4 separate regions of the Homo sapiens genome follow, and regions 1, 2 and 3 are each linked to region 4. The links come from fine-mapping of genetic effects on gene expression. A gene starts in region 4. Each other region holds a variant in brackets. All regions are shown on one strand. Distances are from middle to middle.

What was found. PIP is the estimated chance that this variant, and not a neighbour inherited with it, causes the effect. A credible set is the group of variants that fine-mapping cannot tell apart.
Region 1: its variant is fine-mapped to the expression of PRR5L in whole blood (INTERVAL, PIP 0.90).
Region 2: its variant is the best candidate, but not a certain one, in a credible set for the expression of PRR5L in monocytes (Quach 2016, PIP 0.55).
Region 3: its variant is the best candidate, but not a certain one, in a credible set for the expression of PRR5L in whole blood (INTERVAL, PIP 0.51).

Annotation. Positions count from the first base shown.
Region 1 is chr11:36,407,870-36,413,022 of GRCh38, forward strand. The region is part of intron 3 of PRR5L (proline rich 5 like); the gene reads left to right. Among named protein-coding and RNA genes, the nearest start is that of TRAF6, 100 kb to the right of the region's middle. RefSeq lists an enhancer at 3,370-3,664. The variant C/T (reference allele first, on the strand shown) is at 2,715.
Region 2 is chr11:36,359,827-36,364,979 of GRCh38, forward strand. All of the region lies in intron 1 of PRR5L (proline rich 5 like), which reads left to right. Among named protein-coding and RNA genes, the nearest start is that of PRR5L, 66 kb to the left of the region's middle. The variant C/T (reference allele first, on the strand shown) is at 2,432.
Region 3 is chr11:36,386,036-36,391,188 of GRCh38, forward strand. The region is part of intron 1 of PRR5L (proline rich 5 like); the gene reads left to right. Among named protein-coding and RNA genes, the nearest start is that of PRR5L, 92 kb to the left of the region's middle. The variant G/C (reference allele first, on the strand shown) is at 2,364.
Region 4 is chr11:36,293,992-36,299,144 of GRCh38, forward strand. PRR5L (proline rich 5 like) reads left to right here and starts at 2,297. Exons shown (of 9, transcript NM_001160167.2): 1 at 2,297-2,447.

The DNA of each region.
Region 1 (5,153 bases), 110 kb after region 4:
ATGTTAGCAGATAGACTTTGAAGTAATTATGAGGAAGAACTTGGGACTGAGGATGGTCAAATTCTAAAACACAGTATTGGATCCAAAGACAGGTTTCTCCACCCTTTAAGAATAAATCTGTCAGGCCAGGTGCGGTGGCTCACCCCGTAGTCCCAGAACTTTGAGAGGCCAAGGCAGGTGGATCACCTGAGGTCAGGAGTTTGAGACCAGCCTGGCCAGCATGGCAAAACCCTGACTCTACTAAAAATACAAAAATTAGCCAGGTGTGGTGGTGTGCGCCTGTAATCCCAGCCAGCTATTTTTGGGAGGCTGAGGCAGGAGAATCGCTTGAACCTGGGAGACAGAGGTTGCAGTGAGCCAAGATCGTGCCACACTGCACTCCAGCCTGGGGGACAGAGAGAGAATTTGTCTCAAAAAAAAAAAAAATCCATCAGAAACGTCTCACCTCAATATAGCGGCCAATGTTGTCCCATGTAAAAGTCAGGGCACATGGTCTATTGATATGAAAACCATAAATCAGAATATTTCCCATTGAAACTGCCTTAGGCACAGCTTGCACATTGTAATATCTCTCAAGGCAAGAAAATGACCTTTCAGAATAGACGTATTCTAGCTAAATCCCCAGGCATCCCAATCAACAATTCTGGCTTCCCTAAATTTCCATCTGCCAGAGTTCGGGCTGATTCTGGGAGTCTTCTTGTTTTGAATTCTCAATGGGGTGTTAGTGCGGTTTTTAACACCCCTCTCCAGCCTCACCCCTGATGTGGCTGCATTTTGGCAGCGAGGAAAAGTCTGGGTTAGAGGTTTGGGTTTCATGAGCCCTTCCAAGAACAAGAGCAGCTAAGCTGACACAAGAGCACACTCTCCCTAAACAGTCTTTTCTGCCACCTCTCCCACTGATTTTATGTAACCGAGAAGAATTAGAAAAGTGTGAAAAAAGCAAGACTGATGTTTGCTGGTTCTTTGAAGAACCTGCTTGCCAATGTTCTTATAAGTGCTTTCAGTCTTTGAGTGTTGGGGTGTGTGTGTCGAAGCAGGGGCCATTGATTCATTGATTTATTTATTGAATAAATGTGGAGTGCTCTGCCCAGTACTGGGCTGTATACTGGGGTGGTCATTGAGTAGGTGGTTTGTGTCTTGGAGATCTTACAGCAGAATGAGAGAGGAACTGGGCAGGTAGTTCTCAGGCAACGCTTTTAGAGGGGTGATGGTGGAATCTGGAGTGCTGGGGGCATGTGGAGGATGGGCACACAATTAGACCTAGGAGAAAATGATATCCAAGTTGAAATCAGAAGTGGGAGCAGGCAGAAAGGGCAGTTGAGGATCTAACGTTCTTGCCACCACCACTCACTCCATGCCCTCCTGCCTCCTCAAACTCCCTGGGAGGACTTTTTCTCGGCAGAAATAAATGCTCAGAGATGAAGTTTCCGGAAACCAGAGATCAGTTATCTGCAGCCGGCCTGAGACAGGAAACGCACATTTTCCTTCTCTCTCCAACCACCCTGCTTCTGTTCTTGTTGGGAGGGGGGAGGTGGTGTGAAGAAAACCCCAGAGATTTTCAAGGAAAGAGGAGGTTCCAAGAATTGTGTTTGATCTCTGACAGGTCTGAGTTGAAATATCTTCCTTCTGAGTCAGTTGGTTGCCTGAAACCCAAAGGGAAATCCACCTCCGATTTTTCCATCTCTTTAACAGAGTGTTGACTGTAAGAGAGGGGGACCCACAGTAGGGGGGAAGAGCTGGGAGGGGACGGGAGGAAGGTGAGCCTGGATCCAGCTCACAGGCTGATGCCATAGACCAGTCCCAGGCCTGATGCCACGAGGTAATGATAACTGCAGACACTTGCTTAGCCTTTTAGTATATGCCAGGTTCCAAGTGCTTCATATGTGTCAACTCTTTTAAAACTCCCCACACCCTGTGAGATAGATACTGTATCCCTGTCTTACAAGGAGGAAGTACAGATACAGAGAGGTGGAATAACTCACCCAGAGTCATGTAGCCAGTAAGTGCCTGAGCTGGGATTTGAACCCAAGCCTCCCACATGCTTAAACCCTTAGTAAGTGGGCTGCAAGAGCCACACAGAGCTGGCATTATCCAGATTTGGGCTTGATGTACCTGGACATAGGTTCATGAATAGATCATGAGGTAAGGGGGGCATTGCCCTTCTGAGGAGCCTAGTTTTGGAGGGATTAAGATGAGGGCTCTTCTTGGTCTGGGTGACTCTGCCTGATGATGTGTTACTACCTTGTACCTGCTGTGGCTGAGAAACAGACTTGGCTTTCAGGTTAAGAAGGGTTGTTAGAAATGGCAGATTGGAAACCCATGGGGTTGGCGCATGTGGTTTGGCCTAAAAGTTGTTTAGAAATCTGGACATCTCACCTAGAACTCCAGGTTTCCGGCCTCTCTGGAAAGGTCAGATCTGGGCACTGGACTCACGGTCTGGTGTGGAGCCTGTCAGGGGAGCTGAGGCCTGGCTGCTGGCTTTAGAGGGACTTTCTTGGTCCTTACAGTACACACTCACTTGCCTCCCTTCTTTGCCTGCCTGCCCCTGTGGCATGGGGGGTACCACTGCCTGATTAGGTTGGCCTCCATTTGAGTTGGGATCTACCAATGTATGGCCCCTGGCAAAGCTCTGAGCATCGATCTTATCTGCAAAATGAGGATACACTCCTACCTGTGAGGCTGTTGGAGAATTTGAGATTCTGTGTGCAGACTGC[C/T]GAGCATAGTGTGCCACATAACTAGGAGCTCAATAAATGCTCTTCGTCAGTTTCCTCCATGTTTCTCACTATTCCCACTGCCACCCACTAGGATGCCGACACCCGAAGGGTGTGAGTACTCCATGTCCTGAGTCAAGGACACCACCTCCCATGGGCTCCCATGGAATGGACCAGAGAAGGGGAGGGGGCCTTTCTATCTGTTCCTGCTTAAGAGAAGCTGCCTCCTTGAAACATATCCTATTGCAGAAGTGAGGTGGGTGATTTCAGAGCATTCAGCAGTCAGGCTAGATGGGCACTGACCAGCTACAGCACTGGGCACAGGACTCTGGAGGACCCCTGCTGTTCCTGGATCTTGAGGCGGTCTGGGCGGATCTCACCAAAGGGCCAGGGTGCAGGGCCAGAGAACTTGGGGCAAACCCTACTTGCCAGATGGCGCAGAAATATTAACTACTGATATGGTTATTCCAACTCATCTTGGCTAACCTGCAGCACTTCTTGCAAGCTGCCTCATCGTCTTTAACCTCATGTGGGAAGAGAGTTGGGACAAGCAGCGGGATTTTGCCACCTTGGGTCTTTCTCTGTGTGCAAGGCAGACTGACTCCATCCGAGGTGATTTCCCTCTGTCACTTCCGCGCTTGCCCACTCTGCTGCCATCCTGCTGTCCCTGCGCCTCTCCACCAGCTTGATTCCAGCTTTTAGTAATGCCTCCTTTACCTTTAAGCCCACAGAAGTGGGAAGTTGAGTTGACAAGACGGTGAGGCGTGAGATCGCAGGTCTGTGTAATAACAGGAAATCCTGTCAACTGGGGTGGTGTCTCAGCTGGTCAGCCTGGGAGGGAGAAAGGGTGAGATAATGTAGACCAGTCAGTGCTTCCCCATTTTTTCCCCCTGTTATGGCTCCTTTTGGCTTCTGGCTGAACTTCACGCCCAGTTTCTCATTTTGGTCAGGCCCCGTGTAAGTGTCCCCTTCACATTACCCTCAGCTCCCGGCTTCCCTTTTTCTAGCTCAGTGGCTTGTGGTGGTGGTTGGTAGCAGCAGAATTCTGTTTTCAAATGAAACCAGGCATGGAAGTCCAATATGTGAAACAGATGGCATATGGGGGCTGCTGAGGCTGAGGGGTTGCTTTCATGTCAGTTACACGTCCCGGCAATTCTTTTCTCCAAAGCTCTGCCTCCACCTTCCTACCTTCTTATCCTTTCATCAGCTAGTCTGGCCCTACCTAACATATTACCTGCTTTATGAATTTCTCCTGGGTCCTCAATCCCAGTGTAGGAAATGCTAGTGTGGCTATACTTGTAGGAAGATGCGAGAAGCAGTGGGCTGGAGTTTTCAAGACCCAGGGCTTCAGAGTCCTGGGTGAAATCATAGTAGCTCATGCTTGCCAAGCCTTGCTGTGGGCCAGGCAGCGTTCTAGCAATTTGATGAGGATTAACCCATTTTACTTGTGCAGTAATCCTGTGAAGTAGGTATCCTTATCCTCCCCACATTCTAGGTGAGGAAACTGAAGTATGAAGAATCAGTGAATTTTCCCGGGTCATTGCTAACAACAGCTACTAAGTGGCTGCCAGGATGCAGAGCCAGGCAGCTCTGGGCTCCCTGATCTCAACAAGACACTTGTTATCTCTGGCCTGTGCTTGCTTGGGTCAGTTTCCTTGTATATTAAAATTGAGGATATTATTGCTGCTTACAGTTCTGTTTTAGGCTTAAATGTGGGAACGCCTACATTGTTGACAGTGGTGTCCAGCACCCAGCAAGTGCTCAATAAACTTTAATTGGAGAAAAAAATGCCGGGTTCCATCCTAGGAGCAATTTGTTTATTATTCGTTATGATGATGATGATTGTTTGTTCTAACAAGTAATTGCTTTTCTGTTGACAGGGCAGCAACCCTAGGATAGAGTGGGAAAAGCGGAAGGAAGGCTGCCAGATTCTAGGCCTGAGCCTCAAAGGAGCTTATGGCCTAGGTATTAGGAATCGGGATTTTCATCTTCCCTGCATCTAGGGAACCACAAACCACAGCCTCTTTAATTTGGCTGTCTCTCTCCAGCTTTTCTCTTCTTTCTTGTTCTTTACAAATTAAATTGGTAAAAGTAAGTCAGGCTACAGGGTGAATTGTCCCATTGTGATTTTGGCCTAGGTGTCTAATGCCTTGATATTTTTTACTGTCATCTTTTGGGTAAGATGAACCTCCTGTGCCCTATAAGAGAGTGGCCCAGATCACTCTCTCATAGGGCCCAGGAGAAATCATTGAGCTCTGTTTCATCCTTTTCTTCTAGCATCCAGAACCATGTCTAACACATAACATTATGTTTTCAGTAAATGGCTAAGATTCAAAGAATTAATGAATGGGGTCTCCACTCTGAGTTCCTCTTTTTTTGGTGGGGGGAAGGTAGCTTTTAAGTGAGGAAGCGTCTGCCAAGTTCCACTGGAGATGGTGTATC
Region 2 (5,153 bases), 66 kb after region 4:
CTGAGGTCAGGAGTTTGAAGGCCAACAGGGCAAAACCCCATCTCTACTAAAAATACAAAAATCAGCTGGACATGGTGATGCGCGCCTGTAGTCCCAGCTACTAGGAAGTCTGAGACATAAGAATTGCTTGAGCCTGGGAGGCAGAGGTTGCAGTGAGCCGAGATCATGCCACTGCACTCCAGCCTGGGCGACAGAGTGAGACTCTGTCACACACACACACACACACACACACACACATACACACACACCCACACACACACACACACACAGACACACAAAACAGAAAACTTATGTTCTTTATTAGCTAAATTCATGCCTGAATCTCAGGAGAATCATGAAATATTGCTACCTTGTGTCTAGTAGAATGACAATGACATACTGTTCTTCTCTGGACAAGTCTACCTATTATTAGTGGGATGGTTACCTCCCTAAGTGTTGAGTTCTCAGGAAGGAGGATCAAATGGGATATCTATGTGCTAACCATCAGTTGCTAACAGTATTTAATAAGCATAATTTTCTCTAACCACCAGAGTTATAAAATATAACTCAGCAAATGCTTAGAGTGCCTACTATGTATAAGGTACCAAACAGGAAAATGGGGACGAGAGATGTCAGTTTTGCTGATCAAAGCCTGTCACCCAATAAAAACCCAAAACAGGAAACCATGACAAATATCTGACTATCTGGTGTGCAGCCATTTGGAACACAAAGGGGTATGTGCACATGTAACATCGCACATGTAACACACACACCCACATGCATGCAAGCCATCAGCTCAAGGCGTATGTGTGTGCATGCATAAATGCATGTGTGTGTGTATGTTTAGGGTCAGTGTGGAATAATAGGCTGAATAAGAGGGTAAGGTTTTATGATATACACCCAGGGGGAAAATCTGTGTAAGTCATGCTTTTATCTTGTTAGGTATATGTTATTACTCAAGAACACTTACACCTGGTGATCCAGCAGCTCAAACACACATACATGCACACACTCCTAACTTGATATCACCCTGGTGTACACTAATTGTCTTAAGCCACTCATTTGATTCAAGAAGCAAGTATAACTCTACAGCAGCAGTTCTCGACATGTGGTCAGAGACCCCTGAAGTTGCCTGCAGGAACTGTGAAGTCACGCAGGGCCCCATGCTCAGAGCTCAGTTCAATGTTCTGCTGTGGCTGTCTTGAAATGCTTTATAACTTTTGGACAAGAAACAGCACTTTCACTTTGCACTGGTCCCCACCTATGTAACTCATCTTAGTTGCTTGAGATCCTTTTAGGAGGTCCATGAGCTCAAAACTATTTTAACAAGACTAACAACATTAATATATTATTTGCCTTTTCTACTCTGATTTTCACACAAGTATACAGTGGAGTTTTCCGGAGGTGACATGGCATTGGTATTGCAACAGACTAAGTGCACAGCAGATACGAGAATCCAGATCTCTTAGGCCAGATATTCAAGAGATTTGCAGAAATAAAAAACAAAGCCACTTTTCTTGCTATATATACCTTTTGCTTTTGGAAAATATAGCTATTTTTCATAAAAATACATTACTTATGTTAATTTGTAATGGCTTTTAAAATTATTTTTAAATCGATTAATAAATAACCAAGGATTTTCTCAGTTTTAGTTTCTAATATGTTAAGTATCAACAGATATAACTTATAAAAACAAAAGACTTTAAGGCTCATAATAATTTCTAAGACTTTAAAGGGTTACTGAGTTCAAAAAGTTTGAGTCACTGATCTCTAGGTATTTACTGTTTCTACCAGAGGAAAGAAATCATTGTGGGAATGTGATCAAACGATAGTGTGTTTGCTTATACTTGTTCATTTATGTGGGCAAATCAATGTCTACTGAAAAAAATGAGGTAAAGAGACAACCTTTTTCATTACCCTTGGACTTCTGCAGAATTTTCCTAAGTGTGACCTAACACAAGTCACTTGTTTTTACTTGTTTTTCTCCTTTGTTTTAGAGCAGCAGGTTCTAGGTTATATCTAACTCTTGTGGTTTTCTAAAATGGAATGGCTGTTAAAGAGAGATCGCGAGCCTCTCTTCCCTCGAGGGGCTTGGGAGAGGTGATACAGACGATTCCAGCATGAGGCACAGTTGGATAAAGTGACCTCTGAGGGTCCTTTCAGTTTGGAGGATGCTAGTAGAGAGAGTCTTTTCCCTTACCAAGTTCAAAGTCGGGGGGTGCTGAAGTAATAACAAATGAGTACATAAAAGGCAAAAAAAAAAAAAAAAGACATTCTGTCAGCACGGAAGCAGCAGGCAGTCACCAGAGACTCCTGCCTTCCATTGGCGAACCGGTCACCGGCTCCGTCCTGAAAACAGAACTTGCTCCGAGTGATGTAGGCAAGGGAGAATGCTTCTGATGGGAGGGCAGGGCAGGGTGGGTATGGGAATCGCATGCTCTCATTCTTATGA[C/T]TCTGACTCACTGAAACGGATCCCTCCCTTCCCTTTTTGAGGACCCTATTCCTTCACTTTTAGCACCAAAGTGCTGACGTGCCTTTTCCCCACTTGTCTTTAGAAAATCTATCTTGCAAGTGAATGCTAAGGTGCTGGGCTATTGACAGTTTCACACATCACCCTTGGCGGGGTGGGGGTGGGCGGACGGGGGCGGTGGTTGGTGGGAAACAATGACAAGGAGAACCGGAGACAGTATCTTTACCCCAGGAACAAATCTCCAAAAAAGGACGTTTTAGACACTGGGCAAGCAGAATTGACATATTGGGGAAAGAATGTTTTTCTAGCACTTCTCACACCATGCCTGCTGTTTCTGTTTGAAAGCATAATCAATTATGTCTGTCCTCCCTTCTTCTCTCCACCCATCTTTCCTTTCTCACTTCCACTTTTCCTCCTTCCTTCCATAAAAGGTCTTATGGATTCTCTGTTATAGCCCAGGAATTGCTTAGATATTGGGGATTCAAAGATAAATAATGTGCTGTCATTGATTTTATAATTTGTGAGTGGCGACAGACAGGTAAACTGATCACTGTAACAAGAGGAGGCAAATGCTGCATGGGTGGGGGCTGGGGGGTGGTGTGTGTGCTGAGTGCTTGGGCAGCCTGCCTGGGATGGAGGAGCAGGGCAGCCCTTTGACCTGGCTCCTGCAGGGGAAGTGGGTATTTCTAAGGGGGAGAAAGAGAACAAGGTTCTCCAGGCCCAGAGACGTTAAGTCGTGCACCCAGGTTCACATGGCTATGTCACTGGACCAGGCCTGAGCCTGGTTTGTCTCTGCACCCTCGACCTGTGTGCAATAACTACTGCCTTTCCCAGACCACAGGCATCTCAGTGTGCCTGGGCATAGGATGAGGTGAGAGGGAAAGAGTGGCCGGGAATGAGGCTGTGGTCAAGATTCCACACACCATTCTTTGCATCATACCAGGAGACAGAAAGAGAGGCAAATATTTATGGACCAGGAGAAAAGTAAGCCCAATTCTTTGCTGTTAACTTACATTCATGACACAAGTTATTTAAAATATATTCCTGGAGTGCTTTCGAAGTGTGAGGGCAGACATCACTCCTTGACCTCTGGGAGCTCATATCTTTCTTTCCAGATTAGCTGGGGACAGATTGACTGTACTAAGCAGAATTCACTGTTAATAGCTCAATGCCTTTTCTGCAGATGCTGTGGTTACAGCTCCTCACCGCTTCCTTAGAAGCTCTTTTGCCCCTTCTGATAATAAATGACCTGACTCTTGTCTTTTCTTTTCCCCTTCCTCCTGACCCGCCTTTGAGAGATGAATCAACCCCCGGGCAGGTTTCCTGCAAGGAGTGGAGGAAGGGCCCCAGCTCCTAGACCAGCAGAAAAAGCAGGAGTTGACTGATTTCTGCTAAGCTCACTTGACAAAGGGATCTGGTCCCCTTTACCTACCAGTCTTTCTGTACCTGCCTGACACTGGCAAGGCACTTACTCTTCCAGAAACAGCTGGGCCAGAGGAAAATGGCCCACCCCTCCCACAAGAATGCCAAGAAGCAATCGGCTGTTAATTTCCAGTAGGACGAACAGGAACCCTTTCAACCAGGAAATCTAAATTGAACAGTGATTAAGTCATTCAAGCTCCATGGCCCTGTTTAATTTCCAGGTCTACAGATGGCTCTGCCTTCCTCTTAGAGACCATTTTTAGCCACTGGTCTTGGGAGGGTATTTCACTTTTAAATAAGGCACCTGCATGTTCTTGTCAGGCTGCACTCTGTGGTGGTTAAACCCACAGACTAGTGGGGGCAGAATGTCCAGGTGTGAATTTCAGCTCTGCCATTTGCTGTGTGACTTTGGGCAAGTTACTTACCTCTCTGTGCTTCAGTTTCCTCATCTGTGAAATGGAAATAATAATAATTGCACTGGGCTCATAGTGTTGTTTCATGTTTTAGGAGAATTAATGAGTTGACACTTGTGATGTGCTGAGAGCTATGCATAGTAAACATTTTTGGGGGTTAAATTAATACACATATTTAACTATCCAACTGTGAATGGGACTTGCCTTTGTCCTTTCCTTCTCTCGTGAGGTCTGTCATTAGATAGAGGGAATGAATTTAGTAAAGAGGTTAAATGCAGAGATTTGGGGATCAAATTGCCTCAGTTCAAGTCCTGACTCCACCACTTAATTAGAGGTTAAGTCACCTCACCCCTCTGCTCTTCGGTGTCTTCATCTGTAAGGTAGGTTATAATTGCACCTATTTCTTAGGATGGTCATGGAGAATGAGCTTTGTAAAGTTCTTAGAATAGTGCCTGGTGCTTAGCTTAGTAAGTGCTCAGTAAATTTTACCTATTGCATTATTACAAACTCAAAAAAAGTGCCATATAAACACAGCAGTTTTGATTATACAAGCTACAAGCTGCCCAAAGCTAACATCCTTAGCAAGTGTAGCCAGGACCTCAAGCCAGCTCCTAGAGGCTGGCTGTGTGTTAGTCAGCAGGAAGCTTGGCAGTCTGTCCAGGTGTGGAAGAGCTCAGCTCTCCCGTGTTTGAGTCCTGACTTTCCTGCTTGTTAAAGGTGTGACGTCGGGCAATTTGACATCTCTAAACCTCAATTTGTTTCCTTTCTCCCTCCCTCCGTTCCTTTCTCTCTTCCTTCCTCTAGTGAACATTTATTGAGTGGCTGCTCAGTGGAGGAGGCACTGTGTGAAGTTCTAGATATTCCCCAAT
Region 3 (5,153 bases), 92 kb after region 4:
CTGTAATCCCAATATTTTGAGAGGCCGCAATGGAAGGATCACTTGAGGCCAGGAGTTCAAGACTAGTCTGGGCAACACAGCAAGACCTGTCTCTACAAAAAATTAGCTGAGTGTGGTGGTACACACCTGTAGTCCTAGCTACTCAGGAGGCTGAGGTGGGAGGATTGCTTGAGCCAGGAGGTCAAGGCTGCAGTGGGCTGTGATTGTGCCACCATACTCCAGCCTGGGTGACAGAGCGAGACCTTGTCTTAGAAAAAAAAAGTAAAACTAATTAAAAATACGTTAAAAATAAATAAAATAAAAATATTTATTGGGTACCTTTTATGTGCTCAGTACTATGCTAGGCACCAGGATACAATAGTGAACAAGACGGGCAAGATTTTTGCCTTTAAGGAGCTTCCATTCTGTCAGGGCTCATCAGACACTGAACAAGTAAACAAACACAACAACTGCAGCCTGGTCTGTGGGTGCCACTAGGAAACAGAGACTCCTTGCTTGAGGGGCAGAGTCCTCTTGCTCTAAGGTAAGAAGCTATGGGTGATGTTTATGCAGGGAAGAAATGGGTGGCGTTTAATCTCTCGGCTCTGTGTGTGGCACACACTTGCATTGTTTAAGACAGGGGTCAGGAGTTCAGGCTCTGGAATCACACAGGATTTGCCTCTTGGTTCCTCTTCCTAGTCTTCTGCCTTTGGGCAAGTGAATCCCTATGCTTCGGTTTCTTCATCTGCAAAATGAGCCTAATGAAACCTACCTCCTTGGTTTAGAGTAGAAATTAACTGAGGGAATAGATGCAAATGGAGGCTTGACACAGTCCTGACCATCATGGCCAGCCTCTGATGATAGTTAATATTATTCTAATCAGCAGTCATAATGGTAATAAAATAGTCATGGTTGACAATTGATTTGACCAAATGGCCCCACCACTTTTGAAAATCTGCTTGTGACCTGGTTTCCATCCAATGGGCTGGCGCAGGGGCAGGCGTGGGGTCCAGATCTAGTCTCCTATGCTGGCTTGGAGGGTTCTGCCTTCTGTGTGTTTCCTTTAGCAGTACCTTGGGTGCTGCTGGCTTACCCTGTATCTGGGTGTGTATATAATACATAGGGGAGTATGTCATACATAAGACTTCATAGAGAAATCGGTGATGGGCTGCATGTTCTCATTCATAGGTGGGAATTGAACAATGAGAACACTTGGACACAGGGTGGGGAACACCACACACCGGGGCCTGTCGTGGAGTGTGGGGAGGAGGAAGGATAGCATTAGGAGATGTACCTAATGTAAACGATGAGTTAATGGGTGTAGCACACCAACATGGCACATGTATACATATGTAACAAACCTGCACGTTGTGCACATGTACCCTAGAACTTAAAGTATAAAAAAAAAGAAATCGGTGATGGGCTGACAGTGAGATAAGACAGCTGCCAAGTTAAGAGGCTGGTGAATTAGATGATGTGGTAGGTGGGAGTTCAAACATGGCTGAGGGATGGTTCTGAGTTTGTATTGTGTTAGGGTATCAGCCCCTGCCTCCTCTCTCAAAGGTTCTCAGTGTGTATGGCTCCCAGGGTAGGGGCTGAATGCACAGCCAGAGATGGTGAAAGATCATCGTGGCCATCAGCTGGGCCAAACCATTAATTGAATGGTGAGTCAGCAGACCCAGAGAAGTGAAGTGACTTGCCCAAGGCCACAGGGACTGATTAGTGCAGGCTTACCTTATACCTGGCTTAGGCTCCACATAAAAGGTCTGAGAAGGCTGGAGGCTGTAGCTGTGATGGGGTAGAATAAAGGTCACAAACCTACATGTTTGGCCTTCAAAGTGCTGGTTGGCCTGGTGAATTAGTTGCCAACACTTACAAATCCAGTGATTTCACATTTCTAAAAATTTGGATTTTTGGACTTTCTTGGGAAAAATCAGATCTGGCAAAACCAGGCTTATATCCTAAGATGGCAAACACCAGATCGGATTGAGTAATGGCTGCCTCCTTTAGCCAGGGCAGGTGCTGGTAGTAAAGCAAGCTTACTGTCCACACCTGCCTCACTCCCTAAACTGGTCCCAGCCTGGCCCTTTCGGCCCATTTATGATGCATAGCGCAGAAAAAAGAAAAGAAATTGGTTCTTCCTTTCATCTACTTTTCCTGCCAGTGTTTATTTGCTAGCCCATATGTTCCTGCACAGGGTCACTCCTATTGTGAAATAAATGCTGAATAAATAAAATTGGTGTCAAATGAATGAACTGTCATTGCTAGAGCCCAACTTGGGATCAGAAGCTGAATCCTGACTTCCTCCTAACAGCTGGGTGACTTTGAAGAAATCATATGACCTTTATTTGTTGTCTTCCTTTTGGGGAAAGGAGGTTAGGGGA[G/C]TCACTATTGCCTTTACATTTATTTATTTGAAGAAGTAAGGCATTTTCATGTTTCTGAATTCAAAAAGTCCAAAAGGGCTTATAGAGAAAAGACTTCCCTACTGTGTCGCTGCTACCCAGCTCCTTGCCCTAGGGGAAACCAGTGTTATCTGTTGCTGGTTTGCCCTTCCAGAGACATTTTACGCACATGCAGTGAAAAGGGTAAATGCTCTTTTTAATCCTTTTTACATAGATGGTAGCATAATGTACACGTGGCTCTGTGTTTAGCCTTTCTTTCATTCAAGGTCGGCTCTTTCTTTCTTTTTTTTTTTTTTTTTTGAGACGGAGTCTCGCTCTGTCGCCCAGGCTGGAATGCAGTGGCGCGATCTCGGCTCACTGCAAGCTCCGCCTCCCGGATTCACGCCATTCTCCTGCCTCAGCCTCCGGAGTAGCTGGGACTACAGGCGCCCGCCACCAAGCCCGGCTGATTTTTTTGTATTTTTAGTAGAGACGGGGTTTCACCGTGTTAGCTAGGATGGTCTGGATCTCCTGACCTCGTGATCTGCCTGCCTCGGCCTCCCAAAGTGCTGGGATTACAGGCGTAAGCCACCACGATCGGCTCAAGGTCGGCTCTTTCTTAGAGCTGCATCACCTTCCAGTATATGGGACACCATAGTTTACATATGGCCAGTTCCCTGTTGGTGAGCACTTATTTCCAGCTCATTGTTGTTATAAAGAAGGCTGCAGTAAAAACCCATGTTACATAAGCCACTTGACGTGCCTTGAATAAAATTCTTGGAAATACATTTGTTGGTCAGAGGGTATGGCCTTTGTCACTTCGGTAGATCTTGTCACATTTCCTTCCACAGCAGTCAATTCAGACTGCTCTCCCTCCAGCCATGCGTTCAAGTGCCTGTCTCCCTCAACCCCACCACCCATCACCTTGCAAAGCCTAAGAGGGTTTTGTGAAGAACACAATGTTGTATAAAAATATTAATACTAACTATAGCTTTTTGCGCCCCTACTCAGGGCGAGGCCGTGATCTAGGTTATCTCATTTTCATCTTAACAACGTGCACATAAGCATTACAACCATTTGACAGACAAGGACACTGAAATTCAGAGCCTATGAGGAACATACGCAGGTCATCCAGCTAATAAGCTGTAGAGGCTGGATTTGAAGCCAAGTTAGTCAGATTTCAGTACCATGGTGTTTACCCATGGTGAAGCCCCATGTATTTTTTTTTTTTTTTTTGGTAGAGTTTTGCTCTTGTCACCCAGGCTGGAGTGCAATGGCACGACCTCGGCTCACTGCAACCTCCGCCTTCTGGGTTCAAGCAATTCTCCTGCCTCAGCCCCCTGAGTAGCTGGGATTACAGGCGCCCGCCACCATACCTGGCTAGTTTTGTATTTTTGGTAGAGACGGGGGTTTCGCCATGTTGGCCAGGCTGGTCTCGAACTCCTGAGCTCAGGTGATCCACCCGCCTTGGCCTCCCAAAATGCCCATGTAATTTTAAATGTTGATGTTCTGAGCCGACACCTGCTTATGGTTCCTGTCTCTCAGCAATGATGCCTCACACACAGCTGGCTCATTTACTCATTCAGAGAATATCTGTGGAATTCCTGCTTCACTAGGCCCTGTGCTAAGCCCTGGGGATGTACCTGAGAACATGACAGACAGTGCCTGCCCTTATGGGCCTCACAAACCTATAACAAATAATTCTGTAGTCATTTATTAAGGCAGATTATGACAAGACGACAAAGGAGGTGGGGAGGGTGCTCTCTGGGGTGGTGGAACCTAATCAGGGGTGAGGAGAAAGGAGGGTGTCTCTGAGCAAGTGAAGGTGGGCTATAAAGGGGGTGCAGGTTTGAACCTGGAGAGTTGGGTGGGAAATATTTCACATAGAGGCCACAGCACATGGAAGGGTCCTGAGGTGGGGCAGAGCAGGTGCTGGTGGAAGACATGAAGGCAGGCCAATGAGCAGACTTCAGAGTGGTGAGAAGTGAGCCTGTGAGGATGGAGTTTGTGAATTTATTCTAAGACTTGTGGGGAACAGTTGAAGGCATCGCAGCAAAGAGTGACATAAGCGTTGTGGGCTATGGACTGTTGGGTTCTAGTTCCAGCATCGTTTCTCATGAGATGTGTTACCTGAGACAAGTTAAACACTCTGTACCTCCATTTGCCTTTCTGTAAGCTGGGGCTGGTAATAGCACCTGCCTTCTGGTGGTTGTAAGATCAGACACAGGTGCTTCCAAACAGGTGCTTTCATGTAGTTTTGAGTGCCATATGAGGTATGAAATAAATGAGGCATTTTAACCCAGTAATCATGAATAAATTTATTTTCTCCAAATGTGATGCACTCCGATATTTTCTATTCCATTTCACTAAAAGTCAAGACCCTCTAAGTTCATTTTTAAAATGCTGAGATAATACATGTCAAGTGCCCGCCTCACAGTTGGCAGTCAGTAAATGGTGCTATCATGATCATCAAGGTTGTCATTAGAAAGACCATTCTGACTGCAATTAGAGAATGGATCAGTTGAGTTTGACCGATCATTATCTAAATCCTGGTGGTGTGGAAGGACATTGGGTCATTCCTGTGTTCATGGTCCAGGGAAGGATTTGCACGCTGGGCTTTCTGACTGCAGAAGCTTCCGAGGGTTGTGTGTAAAAGAGGCCATCTCTCTTGTTTCCGTGGTAACTAGTTTCTCCTTGTTTTCCAGGCAGGCACATCAGATGGCATGGCTGTTTTCTTTGACTTCTTTGTTACTTACACTCAGAATGGCTTTTTCCTGGAAGCCTCAGAGTTAT
Region 4 (5,153 bases):
GTATGAAGTAGTATCTCATTGTGAGCCGTCTTGTTTTGAAGTTGCATTGGTATATCAAACACATTTTGTAACTGGTTCTGTCTTTTTGATTATAGCAATCTTAGCGGGTATGAAGTGGTATCTCATTGTGAGCAGTCTTGTTTTTAAGGTGCATTTGCATAGCAAACACATTTTGTCACTTACGCTACTTTGGTTCATTTGAGGTAACTGATGAAGGTTATGGAAGCTTAAATAAACTCCTATTCTCCCCTTTGGTTTCACTACTAAGTCCTGGCTGCCTTCTTTGTCAGAGGAATGCCTGCAGGAGGTGGATTAGGCCCAGGGTCCTGCAGTCCTTTAAGGAGAGCCCTTGCCACCCTCCTGTTATTCCCCTAGTTTCCCTTTTCCTCACCTTTGTCTCAGTCCAGAGATGAGGGTGGGTTGCAGGGGGAAAGGGCTGATCAATCTTTTTGACTTTATGCCCCCTTTGTGGCTTTGACGTGGCCTGATCAGCTCACCAGTCGTCTTAGTCCATATGGGCTAATATAACAAAATACCATAAACTGGGTGGCTTTATCAACAACAGAAATGTGTTGCTCATAGTTCTGGAGGCTGGGAAGTCCAAGACCAAGGCATTGGCAGATTCTATGTTTGATGAGGACGGTTTCCTGGTTCACAGATGGTGTCTTCTCACTGTGTCCTCAAATGGTGGCTGTGGGCAAGGGAGCTCTCTTGGGCCTCTTTATAAGGGCACTAATCCCATTCATGAGGGCTCCACACTCATGACCTAATCACCCCCCATAGGTCCCACCTCCAAATACCATCACCTGGGGGTGAAGATTTCAGCATATGAATTTGTGGGGGACGCATACACTCAGACCGTAGCGCAAGTTGGGGACAAAAGCTCTGAGTGTCAGCAGGGTTGCACTGGCTTGGAAATGCTGGAAATCTGGAAATTTCCAGATCAGGCATCACAAACTGCATGATCTAGGGCTCACATTGCATTAACAATGTTGTGTTTGGTCCACAGTGTTTCAAAATTGGAAAACTCGACATAAAAAATCCAGCCTTCTGGCTTTTCTTTAAAAATGTGCAGGCCCAACCATGCTGTTTCCACCTTTCTGCATTGCAGTATTTGGCTGAGGCTGAGCCCTGGCTGCCCTCTGAAGACTGGTGTGAGCTTTCAAATCCCCACAGTTCCCGCCACACACTGTTGCATCACAGTGGGCCCTCTCCACACATTTGTCACCTGTCTCATACTTGAGAATATTTATTAGTGCCCAATTCCTTCAGGGACCTAACAGGGTGAACTTAGGCCATAGTAGGTAACAGGGCTAAATACAGACACTTGGGATCCTGGCTTTCCAGCCATCCCCATACCATCTCCTCATGAGTACAAGCAAGTTTCAGGTGTAATGTGGGCATCTAATTTGTGATTTGTGGTTCTTGATCACTTTTATGGGCCAGCCACTGTTCTAAGAGTTTTGCATATATTAATTCATTTAATCCTCCTAGGAACCCAATCATAATCCCGGTTTACAGATGGGAAAACTAACACCCAGAGAAAACACTTGCTCACAGTCCATGGGTAATAGTTGCAGAGTCAGAATTTGAAGTCAGGAGCGAATGAGGTCATTTTGCAAGGTTGCTCATGACCTAGTGTCTGGTTCATTATGGGGGTTCAGTGGGTGCAAGCTTTATAATATTCATCTAGTCTTGCCAACTGCTGCTAACGTGCTGCATGGCTGAGGTTTAGTCCCAGCCAGATGTCCCATCACAAAAGTTAGGCATTGAAGTGGATGACATTTGTGTTTAGAGAAATGATATGTCTCATTCTTTTCAGCTCTAACTTGGGGTAAGTTTCTGAAAGCAAGTAAGAGAAAAGGAGAGGGACATTTGTGATCTCTCATGTATAGAAGACTAACAAAGAGGCAGGTGGTCACACCTGAAGGCACGTCCCCTGACCCTTATTACATAATGCCATGGGCTAAATGTCCAAAATTCCTCTCCCAGCTCTGATTGGCCTGGCTACTATGATGAGTGAAGTCCACCAGGGAAGACACTGTGGCCTCGTTTCTCATCCTCCTGTCCCCAGGAGTAACACAGAAGCAGCTAGTAACACAACAGCATTGTCCTCACATACACAGGCCTGCTTTGTTTCCCCACCACACAGAGCAGCCGCTGTAACAATGGCCCCGAATGACACTTTACCCTCCTTTCTCCAATGTTGCACTTGTTTTTTTAGTCTGGAATGGGCTAAACAATGATTTCCTGCAGGGGGTATCAGCTTTTTATATTTTCTGCCTGCTTCTCTGTCAGTCTTCAGGCCCCAGGTCAGTGAGTGGCAAGCCAGGCCCAGAGATCTCTGCGCCCGTTGGAACATCCCCTTCTCGGGAGGCTGGAAGGCCATGGTCATTCACCTCTCCCCAGCAAGGTGGGACCTGCCCTGGAAGAAGAAACCAGACCAGGTAACACAAGAGAGACAATGAGAGCTTGGGGCTAGGGGGTGGGGTTGCAGGGGATGGCTGAGTATCCAGCCCAAGGAGGATGGGTTTCTGGCTTCAAGACATCCGATTTTCTTGAAAGCCACCATCTGCTGTTAAATAAATAATGAAAAGCAACAGAGGTCAAGTTCAGCAGCCTCCCAGTTAGAAAAATACCCTCTGTCTGTCTGGCCCTGTTCAGTGCCTCTGATATCTCTGGGTGACCAGGGTCTTCATGGCCCATGTAGATTTACTGAGGTGGCTGTTGCCTTAATAATAGCTGCTAGTACTAAGCTCTTTCTCTATGTATTGCATATGTATACCTATTACTGTATGTCTCTCATTGAATGAATAGTAATGATAGCAAACCCTTATACAACATGCCTCAGATTCTTGCTTCTTTCAAACCCAGGGAGTCGGGTTCTAGAATCTGCGCTTTTCGTCATCATGCCCCTTGTAAAGCATTTTTTTTTACAACATCCTGCTAATAAACCAAGGTCATCACAATATTTCACTTTGAGAGGCAATGATATATGATGATAGCTATGTGTATTGTGAGTCCTTTGCCCTGTGCCAGGCAGCATTCTAACTGTTTTGCAGCTATTTCATCAGATAGATACTTTATGATCTCTATTTTATGGATGAGGAAATTGAAGTACGGATAATTTAAGTCATTCACCCGGGGTCACACAGTTGTTAAATGGCAGAGCCTGGATTTGAATTCAGTTTTCTCTTAAGTAGTATGGGAATCTTAGACCCGCCCAGCCCTGCTGGTCTGGAGTTATTCTGCTTCTCTAGGTCATGGTGTATAGAGGGTGACATTCAGTTTCTGGCTTCATAGAACATCTGCACCCAAGTTGACAGCTTAAGGAATTTTTTCGTTTGTTTATTTTAAATGATTTTTCTATTGGCATCAGCTTTTGTCTTGCTTGAAGAAGATGGAATTGCTCAATGACGACAGTGAAGGAATTTGAAAGGGTAAGAATTGCTCAATGAGTGGTATCTCTTTTTTGGCCAGAGACCAGGCTAAGTTGCCTCATATGTAAGAGAACATACGTCAAATACACAGGACTCATGGTATATTATGGAAGCAAACTTTATTTTTGCCTATCATTGTCCCTAATTTTTTTCAGCAGGTCCTCCCTCTTCCCTTGCCCTGGGATGAAAATTAAGGTAGGTCCACAACTCTTATGGGCCCCCTTCAGGAATCAAAAGTTCTTAAGTCGCTTTTAGTTCCAGCACAGCCTCATTCAGCAATTGGGATGTCCAGTCCCAGGGAATCAGCCAGATCTTTGAATTTGGTTCCCAGTGGAGACTTTTCTCCCTCCTCCAGTGGGGCCTGCAGCTTGGAAAGGGGGTCTGTGGTTGGCTTCTCATTTCCCACGTTAAGCTTCCATCCTTCTCTCCTCTGGCTTACTGATGATTCTGACTCCTGGCAGGGGGAAGGGGAAAAGAGAAGAGGCAGGAAAGGAGCTGGAAGTCCGTACTTGGTTAATGCTGTGGCAAGCTGGCATTTCAGTGGCAGGTTCTGGTGGGTGTGTAAACCTAGTTCTTTCTCTCTAGGCACAATCTTGTGGATACTTCAGAGAGCACCATTATTTCTCATCTTTGGGGATCTCTGAGTTGCTGGTCCCTTGAAGCTGGTTGCCTAATAAGACTCCTTCCTTAGTTCCCTGGCATCTAAGCAGTGCCGTATTAGTTTGCTGGGACTGCCATGACAAAATATCACAGACTGAGGGGCTTAAACCAGCAGTCCCCAATTTTTTTGGTACCAGAGACCAGTTTTGTAGATGACACTTTTTTCCACAGACCAGGGTAGGGATGGTTTCAGGATGATTCAAGTGCATTACATTTATTGAGAACCTTATTTATATTATTATTACATTGTAATATATAATGAAATAATTACACAATTCACCACAGTGTAGAATCAGTGGGAGCCCTAAACTTGTTTTCCTCCAATTAGACAGTCCCATATGGGGGTGATGGGAACCAGTGACAGATCATCAGGCATTAGATTCTCATAAGGAGCATGCAAACTAGACCCCTCACATGCGCAGTTCACAATAGGGTTTGTGCTCCTATGAGAATCTAATGCTGCTGCTGATCTGACAGGAGGTGGAGCTCAGGTGGTAATGTGAATGATTGGGAGCAGCTGTAAATATGGATGAAGCTTCGTGCTCTCTCTGTCCCTGCTGTGTGGCCTGGTTCCTAACAGACCACAGACCAGTACTGGTCCATGGCCCGGGAGTTGGGGGCCCCGGGCTTAAACAACAGAACTTAATTTTCTCCCAGTTCTGGAGGTTAAAAGTCCAAGATCAAGGTGTTGGAAGGTTTGTTTTCTCCTGAGGTCTCTGTCCTTGGCTTGTGGATGGCCACCTTCTCACTGAGTTCTCACATGGTCTTTCCTCTGTGTGTGCATTCCTGGTGTCTCTTGGCATGTGCAAATGTCCTCTTCTTATAAGGACAGCAGTCAGAGAGGATTAAGGCCTACCCTAAGGGGTTCATTTTAACTTAATCACATTTTTAAAGGTCCTGCTTCTAAATGCAGTCACATTCTAAGGTCCTGGGGGTTAGGGCTTCATCATATAAATTTTGGGAGGATAGTTGAGGCCACAACAAGTGCTGTCAGCTTTTCTCTGAAGGTAAATTTCCATTCCTCCTGGTGGTCCTTGTCAGAAGGACCTACAC